7 separate regions of the Homo sapiens genome follow, and regions 2, 3, 4, 5, 6 and 7 are each reported to be linked to region 1. The links are microRNA targets in miRTarBase. Many come from high-throughput screens and were not tested one by one. Region 1 holds a microRNA gene; each other region holds the end of a gene's coding sequence.
What was found. Region 1 holds the annotated microRNA hsa-miR-548ap-3p (AAAAACCACAAUUACUUUU, at 1,693-1,711, shown strand). A microRNA usually pairs through its seed, bases 2 to 8, with sites in the 3' UTR of a target mRNA and lowers its output. Matches are read on the target gene's strand: a 7mer-m8 pairs with bases 2 to 8, a 7mer-A1 pairs with bases 2 to 7 and ends in A, and an 8mer does both.

Region 2: miRTarBase lists SLC30A3 as a target of hsa-miR-548ap-3p. Seed matches in the 3' UTR shown: 7mer-m8 at 894-900.
Region 3: miRTarBase lists HMX3 as a target of hsa-miR-548ap-3p. Seed matches in the 3' UTR shown: 7mer-m8 at 679-685 and 8mer at 804-811.
Region 4: the mRNA of LANCL3 is a reported target of hsa-miR-548ap-3p. Seed matches in the 3' UTR shown: 7mer-m8 at 971-977.
Region 5: miRTarBase lists ANGEL2 as a target of hsa-miR-548ap-3p. Seed matches in the 3' UTR shown: 7mer-A1 at 2,356-2,362, 8mer at 1,325-1,332 and 7mer-m8 at 1,317-1,323.
Region 6: the mRNA of TBC1D22B is a reported target of hsa-miR-548ap-3p. Seed matches in the 3' UTR shown: 8mer at 1,883-1,890.
Region 7: miRTarBase lists TRA2B as a target of hsa-miR-548ap-3p. Seed matches in the 3' UTR shown: 8mer at 2,064-2,071.

The regions. Positions count from the first base shown.
Region 1 is chr4:173,266,513-173,269,628 of GRCh38, forward strand. MIR548T (microRNA 548t) reads left to right here and starts at 1,648; the gene lies at 1,648-1,721. The region is part of intron 2 of GALNT7 (polypeptide N-acetylgalactosaminyltransferase 7); the gene reads left to right. LOC124900812 (a long non-coding RNA gene) reads right to left here. Exons shown (of 3, transcript XR_007058367.1): 2 at 1-3,116.
Region 2 is chr2:27,252,588-27,255,703 of GRCh38, reverse strand. SLC30A3 (solute carrier family 30 member 3) reads left to right here. Exons shown (of 8, transcript NM_003459.5): 8 at 244-2,020. The coding sequence ends at 392. Among named protein-coding and RNA genes, the nearest start is that of SLC30A3, 8.9 kb to the left of the region's middle.
Region 3 is chr10:123,137,279-123,140,394 of GRCh38, forward strand. HMX3 (H6 family homeobox 3) reads left to right here. Exons shown (of 2, transcript NM_001105574.2): 2 at 1-2,145. The coding sequence ends at 453. Among named protein-coding and RNA genes, the nearest start is that of HMX3, 2.9 kb to the left of the region's middle. RefSeq lists enhancers at 40-1,004, 2,045-2,814 and a silencer at 2,249-2,298.
Region 4 is chrX:37,675,369-37,678,484 of GRCh38, forward strand. It overlaps LANCL3 (LanC like family member 3), which reads left to right. Exons shown (of 5, transcript NM_001170331.2): 5 at 286-3,116. The coding sequence ends at 445. Among named protein-coding and RNA genes, the nearest start is that of XK, 8.9 kb to the right of the region's middle.
Region 5 is chr1:212,992,441-212,995,440 of GRCh38, forward strand. It overlaps ANGEL2 (angel homolog 2), which reads right to left. Exons shown (of 9, transcript NM_144567.5): 9 at 1-2,752. The coding sequence ends at 2,601. Among named protein-coding and RNA genes, the nearest start is that of ANGEL2, 22 kb to the right of the region's middle.
Region 6 is chr6:37,331,000-37,333,999 of GRCh38, forward strand. It overlaps TBC1D22B (TBC1 domain family member 22B), which reads left to right. Exons shown (of 13, transcript NM_017772.4): 13 at 45-1,971. The coding sequence ends at 173. It overlaps LOC105375040 (a long non-coding RNA gene), which reads right to left. Exons shown (of 4, transcript XR_007059566.1): 4 at 2,071-2,149. Among named protein-coding and RNA genes, the nearest start is that of RNF8, 21 kb to the right of the region's middle.
Region 7 is chr3:185,914,856-185,917,971 of GRCh38, reverse strand. TRA2B (transformer 2 beta homolog) reads left to right here. Exons shown (of 9, transcript NM_004593.3): 9 at 247-3,116. The coding sequence ends at 257. Among named protein-coding and RNA genes, the nearest start is that of TRA2B, 22 kb to the left of the region's middle.

The sequences.
Region 1 (3,116 bases):
GATACATTTGTGAAACATTTTATAGTAATAAAAATTTTTACTTAGGAGCAAAAGAAGTATGTTATCAATCCCAAGGTAACTCTTTTTAAATGTGGACATATAAAATTCCAATTATATGTAGAAGGGCCTCTGCTTAAATCTAAGTTGTAAGAAGTTATACTATTAATAAGAGAACAGATATAAAAATAATAAAATCCTGCCATTTTCGGCAACATGGATGAGCATGGGGGACATTATGTTAAAAATAAGCCAGGCACCGAAAGACAAGTATTGCATGTTCTCACTCACGTGGAAGCTAAAAAATTTGATCTCATGGAGGTAGAGAGTATAATGACGGCTACCTGAGGCTGGGAAGGGTGTGTGTGTGTGTGTGTGTGTGTGTGTGTGTGTGTGTGTGTGTGTGTGTGTGTGTGTGGAGGGCTGGGATGTGGGATAAAGAGGGGTTGGCTAATGGCTATAAACATACAGTTAGCTGGAAGGAATAAGTTCTAATGGTCAATAGGACAGCAGGTGACCATAGTTAACAACAATGTATTGTGTATTTCAAAAGGGCTAGAAAAGAATATTTGGGATGTTCCCAACACAAAGAAATGATAAATGTTTGAGGTGGTGCATATCCTAAATACCCTGCTTTGATCATTACCCATTATATGCATGTATCCATATATCACATGTATCCCATAAATAGGTACTATTATCATATATTAATTTTTAAAAGCCACCTTAGTATGGCCTAGAAGTAGAGGATCAGTGTTGAGGGTATGGGCAAAATTTACCATTGTACCATGCCTGTCACTTAGATCACCCTCCAGCCTGGCCCCTGAAACGCGTACCTGAATGCTAGGGAGATACACTGAAAGAGCATTCCATTAAAATGCCTGTCAAACTGAAGGATGGCAAATTTCTGTACTTGAGGGTTTGTGGACACCCATAGGCAGATTACCAGCCAGTGGCTTCTGCAGCGCCAGGAAACCATGCCTGGGCACAGACCAGCAAATGTCATCAGCAATGGCCATTCCTTAGAATAGGCACAGCAGGGGGACCAGCTTCACAGGACCAGGGGCCCCTTTGCAGCAGAGTCTTCACCTCAGCAAGCAGAGCTCACAGAAAATGAGGGGTGCTGCATGGTATCCGAGAGTGCCAAGTTCATAAATACACATGAGGTTCACTTTGGGAATCCCATACAGAGCTGAAAGAGTGATGAGCATGATATTGAGCATTTAGGGAGCTTTGGTTTCCTCTTCTAGCAATTGTGGATAATAATACTTGGCTTGTAAAGTTATTGTGGGTAACAAATGTGCTAAAGGACATAAAAGGCATATCACACATGAGCTCCACCGGTTGGAGGTCACAGTTGTTGGAGGCCACCTTCATCCCTTGTGTGGCATAGAGAAGCTTCAGAAGCTCTTTTTTCTGTATAGGCCTCTCATCATGCCAGGTGTGTGGTATTCAGCCTTATCTTTAAAATATGGTACCCTCTTCATTGTATTTCATCCTGCCGTCTTACTACAAAAGAGGAGGAGTCCTAAAGGAAGTTAGTAAATACAAAGAAGTTCTTAAGGTCAACCTAAGATAAAGAAATGCTTGCTTGTAAGTGCTGGGTGATTGAATCTATAATTTGCGTCAAGAGAAGTGAAGAAAAATGTTAGGGTGGTGCAAAAGTGATCGTGGTTTTTGCAATTTTTTAATGACAAAAACCACAATTACTTTTGCACCAACCTAACCTTGTTTTAGGCATGTATCTATTTAAAGACACTTTATTTTACCTATAACGTTGATGGGTTTACATTGAACTCAGGGCCAATAGCACTGTAACTCGCACCCAAACAAAGCTTGTCTCACGTGGATTTTCTGCACAGGACACAGCACAGCATCTTTGTGCTTAGGATACCAGGTAGCACACTGACATTATTCTCGGGAGGCTGTTTTAAACAGCAAAATTACCAACTAAAAGCACAAAAATGAGAAAATCTGTGGCACCAAACAAACTGCAAATAGGACACTTGTTTTCTCTCTCGTTTTTTTTTTTTTTTTTTTTTTTTTTTGAGATGGAGTCTCGCTCTGTAGCCCAGGCGTGGCGCCATCTTGGCTCACAGCAAGCTCTGCCTCCCAGGTTCACGCCATTCTCCTGCCTCAGCCTCCCGAGTAGCTGGGACTACAGGCGTCCACCACCACGCCCAGCTAATTTTTTTTTTTTTTTGTATTTTTAGTAGAGATGGGGTTTCACCGTGTTAGCCAGGATGGTCTCAATCTCCTGACCTCTTGATCCGCCCTTCTTGGCCTCCCAAAGTGCTGGGATTACAGGCGTGAGCCACCGCACCCGGACACTTGTTTACTCTATGAGCAGAAACAAGAAACAGAACATCCTCGTGTGCATGCCCATCAGGCATCTCCAATTGCAATCCACATTTGTGGACGTAGAATCCACAAATAATAAGGAGCCACTGAATTTTTGTATATTTAGTATGGGGCTCAGGTTAATCACAGAAATATTTACTATATAGTTAGTGGGCAAAATGCCCAGTACCCCATTATAATAAACCCAAATCTCAGTAACAGTGAAGATGTTTCTCAGAGGGGCATGGCTCCTCTGATGTTTGTCAGATAAGCATGTCTTATTATAGGGGCACTCAGACAACAGAGGCACAGAACAAAACAAAATATTTTTTGTCTGTTAATTTATTTCAAAAATGAAATCTGATAATGGCTTTTAGAAATGTGAAGACCAAAAAGCATCAAATTTTGTTTTTCCATTTAAGGAATAGAAATAAAGTGGCCGAGTTATTATTATATGTTCCGCCCATAATTCATCTTTCCTTGCTCCTTCCCACCCCTCCCCACTTTATCTTCCACCTCCTTTTATAGATACCTAACTGCTAAAATGGGCTTGGGAAGGCAGCTGGAATCATGCCAAGGTGTACCCAACAGAAGCTGCTGCAGTTAGTGACATGAGCTATGGAACACAGGAGGTCTTTTGCACTGATTGGAATATTTATTAGATTTAGTGCTGAAATAGTCTCTGCTGATAAGCAGACCTAATCTGAATTTCAAAGGTCCTTATGACCACGTAAATGTGATAGTATCATATCCTCAGGCCCCAAGTGCATCACCTTTCC
Region 2 (3,116 bases), not on the chromosome of region 1:
ACTTAATGACAGGAGAGAATAGGAGACTGGAAAGAGTTTAGTGTGTTAGCATGGTTGATTGGGGTGAGTCTCTCCAACATTTGATTTGACACTTTTATGCTGTTCATACAATACAGAAAGAAAAGCAGGCTTCCATTCACGCCTGGCTTTAATGCTGTGCAGCCCCTTTCCCTGTCCTTATCTCAGTCCCTGCCTGTTCTTTCTCCCCCGGGATGGATGCCGCCTCTTATCACTCTCCCACAGACTCCACCGCTGACCCTGAAGCCGTCCTGGCTGAAGCCTCATCCCGGCTCTACTCCCGGTTTGGATTCTCCAGCTGCACCCTGCAGGTCGAGCAGTATCAGCCGGAGATGGCCCAGTGCCTGCGCTGCCAGGAACCCCCCCAAGCCTGAGCCATGGCCCTGCCCTCACCCCACTGCCAGGCCGAGGCTCAGCCCCAGACTCTCAGCATCTGCTGCCCTGATCACAGAGACGGGACCGAGCCAGGTCCATACCCCTTCCTCTCTCCCTCCTACCACCTGCCAGTTTCCCCAGCCTCAGCCCCAGCCCCAGCCCCAGTGGGCAAGACCAAAGTGTGGCGGGGAGTGGGGTGGGAGTCAGGGGAATAGATGTGACTAGTTCAGGGGCGGGGACTCCCAGGCCTCAGTGTGGCAGGGTGTGTTGAAGGCCTGTGGTGCCATCTCCCCATGGTTCATGTGGAGCCACGAACATCCTTTCCCTGCAGTCCATTTGTCTGTGTGGCAGGCTGGCTGGCTGGGGGCATCTGCCTGTCTATGTGCTGTTGGTGTGCCTATGCCTGGGGGAGGTCAGTAGGGGCCCCCTCCCCACATGGCCCTCGCTCTGTCTATGCAGGGGCCCCAAAGCCCGCACTTTGTCCGTGTGTCTTAGCCCTGTGGTTTTGTCTGTGTGTGTGTGTGTGTGTGTGTGTGTGTGTGTGTGTGTGTTCTTGGTGCTGTGGCCTGTGTGTCTCTGTGCCTATGTGGCTGTGCTATGGTTTCTATGAGTCTGCTCCATCCATGTGTCTGTTTGGGGGTCTATCTCTCCATCCCTCTGTTGGTGCTGTGCCCTTGGCTATCCCTGAAAGAGGGAGGACTCCGCTGCAGCTCCACCAATAAACTTGTGTCTCACTGCATCTTTCAGCCTGTGTGCTGACTCCTCAGGAGGGGGAAGTCAAATAGGTCACTTGAGAACAACAGAATCCCTCCTGTCCCTTCCCAGCCTCTGGAGTGACCTCCCACAGACCTCCTGTCCCTTCCCAGCCCCTCCACCCTCAGATGGAGGGTAAAAGCCACCAGTCTCTTTACTCCCCTTCCCCTGGCTCACAGCATGCCTGGGTCCTTGGCTCAGGGACAGTCCCATGTGCCCTGGGCTTGGTTGCAGGAGAATGCTGGAAGGTAAGGAGCCAAGGAATCCCTGGGAGTCAGTCGTTCTCAGAGGTCCCTGCATGCCAGTGGGCCTCAGGCTGGCTGGAGGGAGGCTGGGTCCCTTTGAGGGAGAATGGCTAGACCATAGCACTGATGTGGGCTTGGTTCTCAGGCCATCTAAGGTGTCCAGCGGTAGGGACCCCTCAACCCTGATAGCAGCCAACCCTGAGTCCAGGTTTAGGCTGTGAACACCAAGGACCTCTTTTACACCTATTCCCCCTTTGTCTTAAGAACTGCATATTTTGACACATTAAGTCTTAAAATCAGGCTCATTAAGGGATTGTTGATTTTCTCTTTAAAAAAAATCAAACTCAAGCTGGACATAGTGGCCTGTGCCTGTAATCTCAGCCCTTTGGAGGCTGAGGCAGGAGGATTGTTTGAGCCCAGGAGTTCAAGACCAGCCTGGGCAACCTAGGGAAACCCCTGTCTCTACAAATAATTTAAAAATTAGCTGGGTGTGGTGGTGCATACCTGTAGTCCCAGCTATTCAGGAGGCTGAGGCAGGAGGATTGCCTGAGCCCAGGAGGTCAAGGCAGCAGTCAGCCATGATCATGCCACTGCACTTCAGCCTGGGCAACAGAGCAAGACCTTGTCTCAAAAAAAAAAAAAAATCAAACTCACTGGGTTTGGTGGCTCATGTCTGTCATCCCAGCACTTTGAGAGGCTGAGGCAGGAGGATCGCTTGAGGCCAGGAGTTCAAGACCAGCCTGGTCAACATAGTGACACCCTGTCTCTACAAAAAAAATTAAAAATAAAAATAAATTAGCTACGTGTGGTGGTGTATGTCTGTGGTTCCAGCTACTCAGGAGGCTGAGGTGGGAGGATCACTTGAGCCCAGGAGGTTGAGGCTGCAATGAACTATGATCATGCAACTGCACTCCAGCCTGAGCGACAGAGCAAGACTCCATCAAAAAAAAAAAAAAAGAAAAAAAAAGAAAAATCAGCTAGGCAAGATGGCTCACGCCTGTAATTCCAGCACTTTGGGAGGCTGAGGCAGGCAGATCACTTGACCCCAGGAGTTCAAGATCAGCCTGGGCAACATGGTGAAACCCTGTCTGTACAAGAAATACAAAAATTAGCTGGGCATGGTAGTGTGTACCTGTAGTCCCAGTTACTTGAGAGGCTAAGTGGGGAGAATCACTTGAGCCCAGGTTGTCGAGGCTGCAGTGAGCCATGATTGTGCCACTGCACTCCAGTCTGGGCAACACAGTGAGACTGTGTCTCAAACATGGTCAAACCCTGTCTCTACTAAAAAATACAAAAATTTGGCCGGGCACAGTGGTTCATGCCTGTAATCCCAGCACTTCAGGAGGCCGAGGTGGGTGGATCACCTGAGGTCAGGAGTTCGAGACCAGCCTGACCAACATGGAGAAACCCCGTCTCTACTAAAAATACAAGAATTAGCCAGTGTGGTGGCGCATGCCTGTAATCCCAGCTACTCAGGAGGCTGAGGCGGAAGAATTGCTTGAACCCAGGAGGCAGAGGTTGCGGTGAGCCGAGATTGCATCAGTGCACTCCAGCCTGGGCAACAAGAGTGAAACTCTGTCTCAAAAAAAAAAAAATTAGCTGGGCATGGTGGTGGGCACCTGTAATCCTGGCTACTCGGGAGGTTGAGGCAGGGAGAATCGCTTGAACCCGGAAGGCAGAGGTTGCAGTGAGCTGAGATTGCGCCACTGCACTCCAGCCTGGGCG
Region 3 (3,116 bases), not on the chromosome of region 1:
GGCGCAGAAGACTGGAAGAAGGGCGCTGAAAGTCCAGAGAAGAAGCCGGCGTGCCGCAAGAAGAAGACGCGCACAGTCTTCTCGCGCAGCCAGGTCTTCCAGCTCGAGTCCACCTTCGACATGAAGCGCTATCTGAGCAGCTCGGAGCGAGCCGGCCTGGCCGCGTCCCTGCACCTCACCGAGACGCAGGTCAAGATCTGGTTCCAGAACCGCCGCAACAAGTGGAAGCGGCAGCTGGCGGCGGAGCTGGAGGCGGCCAACCTGAGCCATGCCGCGGCGCAGCGCATCGTGCGGGTGCCCATCCTCTACCACGAGAACTCGGCGGCCGAGGGCGCGGCGGCTGCAGCCGCGGGGGCCCCGGTGCCAGTCAGCCAGCCGCTGCTCACCTTCCCGCACCCCGTCTACTACTCGCACCCGGTGGTCTCTTCCGTGCCGCTGCTACGGCCGGTCTGAGGCCCCAGAGGGGTGGGGGAGGGAGCGCCCGGCCTCCTTGTCCGGACCCCGGAGGAGACTGGGCCGGGCCGAGGGCGCCGAGAAGTCCAGCGGCCTTCAGGAACTGGGGCTTGGGCGCGCAGCCTCTGCTTCCCCTCCCCCAGTCGGTAGCATTTTGTAAGTATTTGCAATGCATTTTCGTGCAATTCATCCCTAATGGATTGGAGGCGCTTCCCCTCTTACTTTTGGTTTTTGGCTTATATTAAGAGAAAGCAGGAACAAGACAAAATTTTCGGGTCAGAGATTTCGGCCGATAGTTTTTGTAAAATGTGCAGCCCTCCCTTCCAAATTTCCATTGCGCGGTGGCTTTTTGGTTTTATTTTTATAGAAGGAAAATAAGCGCAAAACCTAAATCCCTCTAGTTTATTCTTTTCTGCTTTTTTTTTTTTTTCCGAGACGGAATCTTGCTCTATCTATTGCCCAGGCTGGAGTGCAGTGGCGCGATCTCGGCTCACTTCGACCTCCGCCTCCCGGGTTCAAGTGATTCTCCTGTCTCAGCCTCCCGAGTAGCTGGGATTGCAGGTGTGTGCCACCACGTCCGGCTAATTTTTGTATTTTTAGTAGAGACGCGGTTTCACCATGTTGGCCAGGCTGGTCTTGAGCTCCTGACCTCGTGATCCGCCCGCCTCGGCCTCCCAAAGTGCTGGGATTACAGGCGTGAGCCACTGCGCCCGGCCTAGTTTATTCCTTTTCTATAGAACTGTTTTCAGAATCCAGAGAGGGAGAGAATTCATATGATAGTACTTTTATTTCTGGATTTCTGGGTATGTTTCTTCCTCCCAACCCCCAAATCAGTTATCCACCTTAATTTTCAAAATATGAGCAGCCTCTCATAAGAATCCCGACTCAGGCCGCTTTTCTCTTCTGGAGAGGTCTGTTGCAATTAGCCTCTTCATCGGTCTTACTTTGTGATGGAAGAATTCTCTAAGTGTCTAAAGAGAAAAGACAGCCAAAAATCAGAACTCTGACTATTTGAAACAGCTCCATATCTGGCCTGGTCTAAGTGGTCTTATTTATTAGTAGCATTTATTTTGAGAATTTCATTTGTAAATTATTATTAATATTACTATTATTACTTTGTTCCCTGTTTTGAGAGAGTAATTTCAGTATTTTTAATATGATATCTTTTATCCTCTCCTCTTACTTTTCATGTTCTGCAGTAATTATTGTACGTTGACCTGTGCAATATTGTACAAAATCTCCTGAGAAAGCTGTTTCCTCCTCCACCGTGGGAAACAGACCTTTTCACTGTATAATCATGGTCATTCATTTAGAAAGAAAAAAGTAGGCAGGGGAAAGGGGGGAAGAAAGAAACAAGCTTAGGTAGTGATGCTCAAAGGAGTAAGTTAGGCATACTGGAGCGCTTTAAGTGAAGGACAATCAATTTAGCAGAATTTTAACTTATTTGATAAATGTACAGATTTCTTGTAAAGTTCACCCTCTACTCCGCAGGGCTCCTGGCTCTGTCACCCAATCTGTTTTCTTTCTGTCGGTACACCTGTTGTTCTGTGATAGTTTGTTTCCCCTCATCTCCCTCACCTCTGCCTGGGTTGAGTCCCTTTTTAAGAAAAAGAGAAAAAAAAAACCCACAAAATATTGTTACACTAATGTTGTCGTGACATTGAATTAATTAAAAAGAAAAGAAAAGCTTTACGTGTTGCCAGAGTGTGTAAGTTTGGACGATTTTCCCTAGAGCAAATGTCTCCAAAACTCTTTTCTGTCTTGCTCGCTGACTGCCTCTGCGCTCTCTAAGTACAACCTGGACGCACAACCCTGTATTCCGGGAGGCGGTGGAGACAGAGGCGGCTTTGTTCGCGACCAGAGGCACTCTCTCCCCTGTACTTTCCGCGGCCTGAAACGCCCAGCGAGCAGGGAAGAATGCTGGGCGGAAGGGGAGTGGACTTAGGCTTATCTAGTTTGCGAAATTGAGCAAAGCGACAGCGCGCGAGGCGAGATACCAGAGACAGCTGGTATTTCCGAACACTGGTCTGCAGCCTCCCGTTCTGTTCTTAAACCTGGGTTCCTTCGGGAGCCGAGAGCTTTTGGGCAGGGCATCCCTGGGCATTCGTCAGCTGGTTAACTTCGGTGGGCTCTGGTTGGAGGGAAGAAGGGAGTGAGTTCAGAGTTTAGCTGCAGCCGTAGGCCGATTGCCAAGTCAGGCTAGGAAAGGCTGGGCCACAAGAGGACAACCCCAGGGACAGCCAGCTCTTGGGACAGCGGCTCCCACTACCAGGAGAGGGGAACTTCCTCAGGTCTTGCAGAGCTGAGATTCCCGGGGCGACTCGAGCATGGGCGCGGTCCTGATGTGCTAAGTGTGAGGGAACAGAGGCTACCTAGCTGCTGCAGCTGCAACAGAGAAGACCTTGTCTCTTCCGTGCCAGGCTCTTCTCTTTCCCCTGGCGCCCAACACCTCCTGGGCGGCATCTCTAGATCCCCGACCCTGTCCTGGCAGACGCCGAGAAGCGTAGCGCTCACCACACCCGCGCGCTACTGGGTTCCAGGCCGCCGCGCTCTTAGTGAGCAGCCTGCGGAGGCACAGCGCGCCGGAACCGCCTGGAAGGGTGGGTCCGCCCGACAGAAGCAGGTGCCTGGGCGACACTCGCTGGCCGGGTGTGGCCGCCTGC
Region 4 (3,116 bases), not on the chromosome of region 1:
ACTGGATGACAGAAAGAATGAGATCCTTGAAAATTCCAAACTGCTTTGCTTTGCAAACTCTAAGAATAGTTGGATTTGCTTGCCAGCATAATTTGTTGTGAAACATACACAGTTATATAATGGATCTTCTTCTTTAACAGAGAAAATGTGTTTCTTAAAATACTTAATTATATAATTCTGGAAAGAAAATTATGCTAAAACTTTAATAGAAGAGGAAGAAGCAACCCAAGGTCCATAATATGGAAACACTCATGTTAAACTGTTCATATTTTCTTCTTCTCTTAGGTTTGCTCAATTCTTATTTACCGAGGAATTCAAGGCCGGTTCTCGGGTCCTTGAAAGTATATACAGCTTGTATGAAGGCTTCTCTGGGACAGTGTGCTTTCTGATTGACCTGCTGCAGCCCAATCAGGCTGAATTCCCACTCTTCAGCGTCTTTGTTTAGAAGGCTCTATCTTCCACTGTGGCCCTGCAGAGATCCCCTGAGCCAAGCCGAGGCAGTTTCCACATAAGCCACATTCAATGGTATCGCAACCATGAGCCTTAACATTGCCATCAGAAGGAAGGAATCAGGCAGGTGAAGGCAACATGATGCCAGATTTGAGAAAGGATCTGCAAAATAAAGATACCACAATTCATCTTAAAACTGCAGAGATTTAATGTGTCAGGGAATAGATGTGAAACAAGGGATCATAGGAAAAGGGGAAAGAGAAATGATCTGTTTTTCAGTTATGACATAGAAAACCAAACTGCAAGTGTAGACTATGACAAAAAATACACTAATACCTTTGCAATCTGAATGAGAATTTGACCATTTGTGTGTGCCCTCTACCCTTAAATTCAGAAATAAAGACAATAAAAAATTAAAATAATTGCCCAGCTGAAAACTGCTATGAGGAATGGATTGTCAGGTTGCTGAAGTATAAAAATAAACTCTTGGTTGTCCTGTGCTTATACTTATTGAAATTTATGGTTTTTACTGAGCAAAGATATTTGCATATGAATCTCTATTTTTTTCATTACCCTGGGCAATTTAAAGAAATCATATCATAGCGTAGTTCAGATACTAAAATTTGAAGTTTCCTTAGGCCCTAGAACATCTCTTTTCCTGGTTCCTTTTTTTTCCTCAAAGCTCAATTAGAATAGCAAAATTTATAAGCTAGTAAACTTATACTATAGCAAGTGTTGCTGTAAAGTGTTTTTCTCCATAGGAAGTGTGAACTGTGTATTGTCTATTGTTAGTAATTTTAAAAATGCCTTTATGTACATAATCTTGATGGAGCTATTAGCTGAACTATAAAATATGCTCTTGGTAAATATCACTAATTTCAAAGATCAGGGGAACCACTACAAAGACGTGTCATTTCTGCCTTTGTTTGGGACAGGCAGACAGGCTGAGGAAGTCACCAGTGATTGTGGAAATAATTTTGCTCCATTTTATACTATTAAATGAAGAGATGAGTGAATTCTGTGGTTGGTTACCTTACCTTCCAAGATACAGGGTCCACTAGAAATTGGCTGTAATACTCATTGAGCCAAGTTGTCATATCAAATTCAACCCTGCTGTAAACACATAGAAGTTGTGAAACTGCTTCAAGTAAATAGTGGTTTGCAGAACACTGTAGGAGCATCTGTCACTTCATTATGCAGAGCATAAGTTGATCCTTTTCCTAGAATTTTGTCAGTGGCAATTGCATATATCAGATTGAGTAGGAAATTGTGTACTGTATAAGACTTATTTAAATAGTCATTAAATATTTGGATATATTATGTGTGTGTGTGTGTGTGTGTGTGTGTGTATGGTGTGTATTCCATATCTATTCCCATGTAAATCCAAATACTTATTCTTTATTTCAGTAATTCTTAACTTGAATCATAGACTTTGGAACGAGTTAGGGAATGCTCTGTTGCCTAAAAAGCAAACCTACAAGTATGTTGGTGTGTGTATGTGTATGGACCAGTTTGTTTGTGTGTGTGTGTGCTCATTTTGAGGGGACAAGGATCTCTAGCATTCATAACATTCTCAAAGAATCTGACCAAAGAAAGGTAACAACTATCTTTGTGTATTTTATGACTGTGTGTGTTTGCACTCATTGCAATAAAGTAGGACAAAATGATTTTGAAATGCATACATCTTTTCAGCTTCCTGTTTCATTTTTACATCCTCAGATACAACCATATCAAATTGGCCTCAGTTGTTCATCAGTGAAAATGCTCAGTTTGGGGTGATACCACATAAATAGCAGCTTTCAGATGACTCCCCACATTGGGTCCAGAAGTTCTTTCATATAGGCTGAATATAATAACCATCCTATATACAGAGCTTTATGGAACACATGCAGTTTTTATCGTCCAAGAACCCCTCAAGATGTGTTTGGTAAATGCTCCAAAGTCTTACAGCTAGAAAAGGACAAAACCAGGATTCAAACCCAGGGTTTCACTTTCTAAGTTTATTTATTCAGTATTCTAGACTAGAATCTGGGGATACAATAGTGAACAAAATAAACTTTCCCTCAAAGCTACCTTCTGTTTCCATTTGCTGTTCCTTTCACAATTCATCCTTGAGACCTGAAACCTAAAGCACTCAGAACTGATACTCTAGTTCATTATCATATCAGTTCCATTTCTAGTAACTTCAGAAAAACAAGACCACTTTCAGGCCTATCTGCCCTTTTAAGTTCTGATAGGTCTGATGATGATGTGCTAACCATTTTGATTTGTGTGTCAAATCTAAGCAAAGACCATGTTTGAGTATTGTCTTTATGAAATGACATTTCGGTAAATTAGAAACAACAATAGGCTTGTTTAGCCCTTAAACATGTTGATGAAACTTTTCATTTTCCTGAAAGAATTATAGATTTTGGAAGGTCCTCTTCTATATTATTTTTCCAAGAAGGGGAAAACGATTCTTACATTTTGCTGTAGGAAAGTGTGGCATGTTACTTCTTATTTAATTATCCAACTTGCCCCCCTTCTCTGTGGTAGCATTTTTAATGTAGTACTTAAGGCTGTTGTCTCTTAAAGGCTACAGGGGCATTTTCACCACCACTAGTATAACTTTAATATTATTTACTATATACAGCATGAGCAATTATAAACCCTGAAGGTAATAGTGG
Region 5 (3,000 bases), not on the chromosome of region 1:
CTTGAGACTGAGAGATTTGGTTTCAGGCATTAACCAGATTTAATTGTTTTTGGCAGGTAAGTACAGGCTCTGGCAGAGTTACCAACTATTCTGGTCAACAAAAGTAAAGACAAGTGGATAATTATTTTTAGTGGAGCTTTAAAAACCTGTGAGAAGCTCACATTGACTTTTTGGCCTCCAGTCCACAAAATAATACTTCATTTGATAAGCTAAAGTAAAGAGCAATTTTATGGATTAACTCTATCAAAGTGAAGCACATGAAAAATGGGCCTAAAGTCACAATATATTAATCAGGATATAAAAAATTAAATTTTCACAGAGGTTTTCAGGGATGTTTGTTTGTTAACAATGACCTATATGTAATAATGTTATTTGTTAATAAATTCACACAACACAAAGCAGTAATTAACTAATGAATTTTCATTTTTCTTTCCCCAATATTAAAAAGGGATAATTATACTATCATTATAATTTGATAATGTCTATATCTGCTAATTAGGGCACATAATATCCTGCAAACTACTACTATAAAATGTGGGAAATCCTAGAACTATAATTAATACTGTAATTAAAATCCCCCCAAAGGCCAGGCATGGTGGCTCATGCCTGTAATCACAGCACTTTGGGAGCCCGAGGCGGGTGGATCACCCCTGAGGTCAGGAGTTCAAGACCAGCCTGGCCAACATGGCAAAATTCCATCTCTACTAAAAATACAAAAATTAGCTGGGCATGGTGGTGCATGCCTGTAATCCCAGCTACTTGGGAGGCTGAGGAAGGAGAATTGCTTGAACCCAGGAGGCGGAGGTTGCAGTGAGCCGAGTTCGCGCCACTGCACTCCAGCCTGGGCGATAGCGTGAGACACCATCTAAAAAATAAAAAAATAAAAACCCCCCAAAATGAGAAATTAAATATTTAAACATATTCAATTACAATTTTTACTAGACAAATCTTATAATCCACATGCCTTCTCTGAGGTTTTCATCTGTTTGTTTTTTTAAAAATAATTATAGCAAATGCTTTAGTACAAAGACTTAGTCCAAGACTATTATTGTTTTCCAATTTAAGGTGAAGCATTCTATTAATAAAACTCACTGTAAAAACATTTACAATTCAGTGTAAAATTACTACTTAGTAAAAATGCATATAATTCCTTGTTCCTACTGTCTACAAAAAAGGAAATTTCCACTTTTTATGTTTTAAAATTGATTCAAACACTTGTATAGAGGATTTATTAAACCTGCTCATAACCACTTCATAGAAAGTGTCAGCACCATCTCATACTGGTGCATCACGGTAAAAGAAAACATTTTAGAAACAAAACCACTAAAACCAACAGTTTAAATGACTATTTACAGAGCATTAGGTCTCCAAGTTAATATCTCCCCACTAGAGTTTTACAGGCTTCCTCATATTTCTGAGGCTTAACAAAAATAATTTTATAGCTGCCACTTTGTTCCAAAGACAAATTTCCTAATAAAATAAATTTCTATAGAACTGGTTCAGTAAAATAAAATCTCTCCCCTAAACCAGAGATCTTAAAACTGAATTTTTAAAAAATGCTGCCATGTGCAGTGGCTCCCGCCTGTAATCCCAGCACTTTGAGAGCTGAGGTGGGCGGATCACCTGAGGTTGGGAGTTCGAGACCAGCCTAACCAACATGGGGAAACCCTGTCTCTACTGAAAATACAAAATTAGCTGGGAGTGGTGACGCATGCCTGTAATCCCAGCTACTCGAGAGGCTGAGGCAGGAGAATCGCTTGAGCCCGGGAGGCAGGGGTTGCAGTGAGCAAAGATTGCGCCATTGCACCCCCAGCCTGGGCAACAAGAGTGAAACTCCATCTCAAAAAATAAAATAAAATAAAAATAAATAAATAAAAATGCTAGGGAAACAAAGGTATATCCCCAGTCTCTGCCTCTATTAAGCCCACCTCTTGTCTGTTCCAGGGTGAAAGAGTGAGCTTTACACGTTATGCTGGCTTATATTTCCCAAACATTTCCCCAACACGATGCAGGCATATTACATGGCTCAGGACAGTAATAAGATGGATTAAGCATTCTGTACAACTTAAAAAGCATTATCAAACCCCTTCAAAAACAAACTAAACAATGGCTGGTTGGATACCTGTGAATGACCCAAGGCTTTCTAAGATAAACTATTTAGAACTCAATAGAGGGGTCTCCTAATGAAATCAAGCCTTCTGGAAAGGAAACAACTTGTAGTTTGCAAGAACTCAAAGATACTTTGGATCCACTACAGAGCTTGCCAAAATTATGAAATGAAATTTTTTACTAAGCAGACAAAGGAAGATGCATTATATTTAAAAATCACTGTCAATTTTACTAGGATTTAGAATATAAAACCTTTACATCTCTTTTACAATAAAGAGAATTTAGAGCTCACTTGTCACGAAAATATTTTTCATTATTAAAAAAAATTGTTATAAAGTTATTTCTTCTGATATGGAGTTTCAAAGCATCTAACATAACCGCTTCAGAATCTCCACAGTGCAAAAATAAACAACATGCATACACTTAAGAACTTTACATTCTTTGAAAAACAATACAAATTGGAAAGAAAATTAGTATGTGATCAAAGAGAGTCAGAGCTCAAGTCTGAACTTTGCCAATAAAGGCAGATGATCTGAAGAGTTATTTTCGTTTGGAAGTCCATTAACAGTCCATAAGTCTTGTTCTGTAAGAAGTGACAGTCTAGCTAGAAGTTTCAAGCCACCAACCAAAGCAACTTCAGCTCCTACATTAAAGAAGCACACACATATTTAGTAAAATTGTCAACGGGTTATTGTAAATTAATCATACAAGTCTTTTCTCCAAACAAATATAGAACTTGAGGCCCCTCCAGAAGACTAAAAACTATGACACAGTTTTTAGAATATCTAAGCTTTATTGAATTATAACCTAATTATAATTATCAAACACACAGCAGTTTGAGATATTTTTTCTATTTCCAGCTCTGTAAACAATCTTTAGAAGAAAATATAA
Region 6 (3,000 bases), not on the chromosome of region 1:
GTCTACGGTCTGGTATGATATAAAAGTCCTTTCTTGCATTCCAGGGTCTCCTCATGCTGCTACAGAACCTACCTACAATACACTGGGGCAACGAAGAAATTGGGCTGCTTCTCGCCGAGGCATACAGACTCAAGTACATGTTTGCCGATGCCCCAAATCACTACCGCCGATAGGTGCTGTCTCCTCCGGGGACCCAGACTGCCTTCATCTCTGATGGCAGTCTGATCACTGTGGCCACTGTGCGAGCCGTGGACCCCGGCCAGGAACCACTCCTGTTGTACAAAGCTCACACCCACCGCCCAGGTCTTAACTTTCTGGCATCCACCACTCCATGTCTCTGGATGTGTCACTTGGACCACTGTCAGTATTCCATGCCGCGTGGATGGGCCCAGTTCTGGGAGAGGACAGAAAAGGTGGTACAGGGTTGTCTGCCCCTTTAAAAGAAACTGGACAAAGAAGGGGAAGGCTCAGGGTCTCACCTCACATTGTCCCTACAAGGACAGGCCCCAACTGATAACCGTTGCTTTTTTTTTTTTGTGAACATAGTTTGATTTGATCACAGGTCAAAAACGCCTTATATTTTCGAAAGACTCCTGGCCCCTCTTCCCTCTTCCTGGTTTCCTAGCCGTTCCCCTTCTGCCCCAGTCTGAGCCAGTGAGGGGTAGCTTTTTAAAACCATTATTCTAGATGGAGGAGGCACTGATGCTTGTAACTCTGGAAAGAGGCCTACACCCAAGGGCTAGGAATTTTATTTTTCCTTTTCTCACCAGGTGTCTGCATGTGTGTGTGGGTGTGAATGTGTATACATGCCCATCAGCATTTAGTCACATGTCTGAATTTCTGTGTCCAGACGAGCCCCATCAAACTAGTTGGGAAGGGCCCCAGTGACCAAGTGTATAAGCATCCCTTGAAGAGGGATTGGGGCAGGGGAGGCAGAAGGGGCTCTCCAGACCCCTTTTCCATGATGACCCACTCCAAGATATTATGTGTAAATTGTGTTATTATGTATATGGGTAAAGATGTACAAATATATGTCCTCTTTGTAGCAGATATGATTTTATATTTATAATGTGCATCAACATGTGAAAGCAATCTAGGTCACTAGCACAGAGGAAGTTGCCAGGAAGGTGGCTTCAGCACCTCCAGGTTGGTTCTGGGTGTCCTGCTGTGAGGGGTAGAACGGGAGGCTGCTGAAGTGAGTAGCTGAGCAGCTGGAGCCATCCCAAGCATCAGTGTCTCAGAGTCCTCCTCGCCCCTTTCTTCACCCCGCCCCCCAACCCCCAGACTTTCCTGGAGCATCTGCCCTTTGCTCCTAGCAGCCTCCCCAGGAAGGGACTGCAGAGGCGGGCAAGCCCTCTCTATGTGTTTTTATCCCCACCTTCCCCGGAATCTGGGGAGGGCTTTTGTTTTTACGTTTTCAAGTTCAGCATTGTATTCGGACAGAAGCTGTGACTGAAGACTCAGTGCCAAGGAAAGGGGCTTCTTGTGTGTCCCTCGGGTTTGGGGCTCTTCTCAGAGAGCAGCACTCCATATCCCTTACTGTCACCTTCACTCCCCACACAGCTCATGAGATGTGTGACCCCTGTTTGAGTTTTGGTATTTGGTAGTGGAGGGTGGGGGGATGGGGGCCAGCAGCTGTCATCCTCCTGGGAAGCCGAGCAGTGTCCCTGGTGGGTAACACCCTCAAGTCTCTTTGCCAGTGAGGCCCCACCACATCGGTGTGAGTTAGGTTTCTCATCTGGAGCTGTTTCTCAGGCATTCTTCCCAACCCTCTTCCTTTTCCCCTTCGGTGTGCCTCAGTGGTCTCCTTCATAGAGTGAGAGGGCTTGAGACCCTCCCTCAACCGGACTAATTAAAGAAAGACACTTGTGTTCCCAAGTGGTGGTTTTATTTTTTTAGTTTTTATGTTTGTATGGGAAATTGTGGATAAAGTGAAAAGAATTGTAAATAAATGGTGTATTTCCTCCTCCATCTGCTGGTTTTTCTCCTGTATGTGTCCATGGAACCTAAAGAGTCTCCTCTTTTTGAGTTTTTCTTGCTGATACTAGTAGGTGTGTGGTCAGGCCTTCTGTGAGGTGAGCAGGGCATCAGCAGAGGATCAACCAGCAAACACTTACCCGACATCCATCTATGAAAGGTACTGTGGAAACTACAAAAATGAGTAACTTGGTAAATGAAACTACTAAAAAGAGTTAACTTGCCAACCACTTTGAGAAGCACTTTACATGGATTATTTCATTCATCTAAAAGAAGTATGTTATCTGATAGAGGGTAGAAAACAGACTAGAATTTCAGTGCTGGATGAAAACTTGGAGATATCTAGTTTAACCCCCTCATTCGCAGAGGAAAATCCAAGCCAAGGCCAAGGAAGACAGCATCAGAGTCAGAACCAGAGACCCGGTGTCCTCCTGGCTTGCCTGTTCAGTGTGTTTCCACCAGAGTAGAAAGAACTAAGATGGCCGCCATGTAGGATTGTCTTTAAGTCTTTTTTCGGTTGTCAGCTGTTGTTTTTTTTTTCTTGGTAACCTTACTGTGAAATATCTCAAGAAAGGTAGCTGATTACATTTCATCTACAAAGGACAGGTTGGAATGGTTTCTCCACCCAGAATTCCTTCCTAGGATTTATTTGAGAGTATTTCTTGGTTTCAGTCATTAGGAACCACATAAAAATTAAATTCAGCTATGTGTAATAAAAACCAAAAATAGGGCGGACGCAGTGGCTCATGCCTGTAATCCCAGAACTTTGGGAGGCCGAGGCAGGTGGATCACAAGGTCAGGAGTTTGAGACCAGCCGAGCCAACATAGTGAAATCCTGTCTCTACTAAAAATACAAAAAAATTAGCCAGGCGTGGTGGTGGGCACCTGTAATCCCAGCTACTCACAAGGCTGAGGCAGGAGAATCACTTGAACCCGGGAAGGTGGAGGTTGCAGTGAGCCGAGTTCACACTATTGCACTCCAGCCTGGGCAACAAGAGCGAGACTCCGTCTCTAAATAAATAA
Region 7 (3,116 bases), not on the chromosome of region 1:
ACATGGATTACTTAGCCCTTTAGTTCTCAGATTGAGTTATATACTTCCCAGCAATTTCTGTTATTTAAGATTGCTATCTCATTTCTGGTGTAATACTTACATGGAAGTCTTTCTCTATTTGGGGGTGGTGGGGTTCTGGCACATAGGAATTTCTTAATGGCAGAATATTCTGAAATTCTCGGCATTAAAGTATACTTGATAATTAGTTCACTTAATATTAAAGCATGTTCATTCTTTTCTTCCCAGGTCGCTATTAAAGCATGAAGACTTTCTGAAACCTGCCCTAGAGCTGGGATATTGTTTGTGGGCAATATTTTTTATTGTCTCTTGTTTAAAAAGTGAACAGTGCCTAGTGAAGTTAGGTGACTTTTACACCTTTTACGATGACTACTTTTGGTGGAGTTGAAATGCTGTTTTCATTCTGCATTTGTGTAGTTTGGTGCTTTGTTCCAAGTTAAGTGTTTTCAGAAAAGTATGTTTTGCATGTATTTTTTTACAGTCTAAATTTTGACTGCTGAGAAGTTTCTATTGTACAAAACTTCATTTAAAAGGTTTTTCTACTGAATCCAGGGTATTCTGAAGATCGAAGCCTGTGTAAAATGCTACCAAATGGCAAAAAGCAACAATAAACAGTTTGATTTTTACTTTTCTTTCTAACATATCAATGCTTAGCAGAACTATTCAGATTGTCAGTAGTAAATTTAAAGACAAATGCCCGTTTTCCTCCAGTCCATGAAACATACCATACTTATATACCTGCAACTAAGTGTTTAAAATTATGCTCTGTAACTCTGTACTGCTAGTATTAGAACTAAAAATCTTAAAATACAGCCAGTGCTTAATGCTTATATCAATGTGGATTTGTCGGCTTTTATGTAATCTGTAATATGTATAGCAGGAAATACGAAGAGTTACACAGTGTATGCCTTAAAAGGCTGTTTCTTAAAGGTGTTACAAGGGGATAATGGTATTTCAACTAGTTATCAGCAAGTGACAATACATTCCACCACAAATACACTCTTGTTCTTCTAGCTTTTAGACTATATGAAAAAACCGGGTGCTTCAAAGTACATGATAAGGGAACACTATACCTGTCATGGATGAACTGAAGACTTTGCCTGTTCATTTTTTAAATATTATTTTCAGGTCCTTTGCTTACCAAAGGAGGCCCAATTTCACTCAAATGTTTTGAGAACTGTGTTTAAATAAACGCAAATGAAAAGAAAAATGTTGGTGCAGCTGTTCACAAAGAAGTGTTCTTGTTCTATTATAATTAGAGTTCTTCTGTAGTTTAATCGTTAGGGCAGTGTGTTCCTTGGGCTGAGGTGTATCTTTGCTATTTTGGGCTGGGTTGAGGGGGGGATGAATTTCTGTATTCCTGGAAAATTCAGAGTGCATAACTAGGTATTAGAGTGATCTCCATTTGGGGATGGAGTTACAGTAAATAACTAGACTGCGGGTACTTTAATACATGTTCTTATTATTTTGCATTTAAGTAATTTTCATGACCAATTGTAGGGATGTTGCTACAGGTGGGTTATTTTGTTGCCTTGCTAACCTTTATCGCATCTAGGTATTAGTATGTTTCAGGTACTTTGGGAAGAACTTTACATATAATCTTTAGCAATGAAATGATGTAGAGTAACTTACCTTAGTTCAAATAGCTGTTTAAGTGGCAATGCCACGATCTGAATTGAACCTAGGTGATCTTAGTCCACAGTTCTCTTGATCATGATGTCTCAAATCTGGGTACCTGGGTGATGGAAAATACCAGTAATGGAGCATAGGCAGTATTGGCAGGTCTTAATTTGTAAAACTTACTGTCCAGGGTGTTTTCAGTGTTTGCCAACTTGTGGTAAATTAATATGCTTAGAGAACTACCCTTAGGTTTGTTTCTGATAAGCATGTGGAAACAACTTAGTATATGCCTGATGGGTTATTTCAAATTGTTCTCAATGAGTTTTGAAACAAGAATTTGTAGTATTTATATATAAAGTTGAGTTTTAGGGTGTGGTCCCAGAGGGGGTTGTGTTATGGATGGATACATTAAAGGCTGAGAAACCTGGTTTTATCGTGGTAGTATATACAGGCATCCTTTCCTGAAGTAACTACATTCTCCACCATTTTCTCCCCAACCAAACCTCTCCCCATCAGTTAACTGATGGCTTGCGAGTTCACACTCCTGATAATCTCGAACATAACCCTCGGTTTCTATCCTAAAGCCTGAGTTTTAGCCCTTTAGTTGTGTAGCCATCCTTTATCCTGCTGATTGAAAGTTTCCTTTTTTAGGCTAGTTTGAGTTGTTTTCTGGCTTTTAGATTTGAAAGAATTTTAGCCATTTGACATGGCTACAAAGAGTGTTAACAGGCAAAAGACTGAGGAAAATTTGGAATTTTACCAAGTTGAGATAGACTGAGAAGTAGTGAGACAAAGTGGTAGTCTTTTGATGTGCTGTAATGCTAGTCGCCAGTTTCATGAAAGGGAGGCAGCAGTTACCCGTAGGTAACCCCTAGGTAACTGCTGCCATGGGCAGCTGAATCAGACAAAAGCCATGGGAAAGGATAAATTTGAGTCTTAAAGTTACTGCCTCAAGGCAAAGGGACTTGGAGGCTTTTATATGCCAATACAAACAATCCATTTCTTATAGCTGTAGGGCTGAGACTACTAAAACCAAATGTAAAGTTCATTTGGAAGATTGCTAAGTTAAATAGTTTTATACTAGGCTTTTGTGAAACTTCTCAGGAAATCAACAGGGTCCCAGCAAGTGGAAATAAGGCTGTGTCAAAAGATTTGTAGACCTGGGAGCAGGGGTTTCCGATCTCCTGGCCATGGATTGCCTGAGCTCCGCCGCCTGTCAGATCAGCAACAGCAGATTTTCATAGCAGGAATCCTATTGTGAAGTGCGCTTGAGAGGGATCTAGCTTGCACATTTCCTTATGGAAATCTAACTACATGTTAGAGAATGCTCAAGGTCTGCAATGTTTACATTGTTGCCCCTACATAAGGAATATATGCCTTAAGATAAAACTAATAGCTCTTAGCCCTCTTACACCATTGACTAGGATTCCAATTCTGCAAGGCCCAGGAGGAGAAATTGAGAATTAGAAGTTTCACCG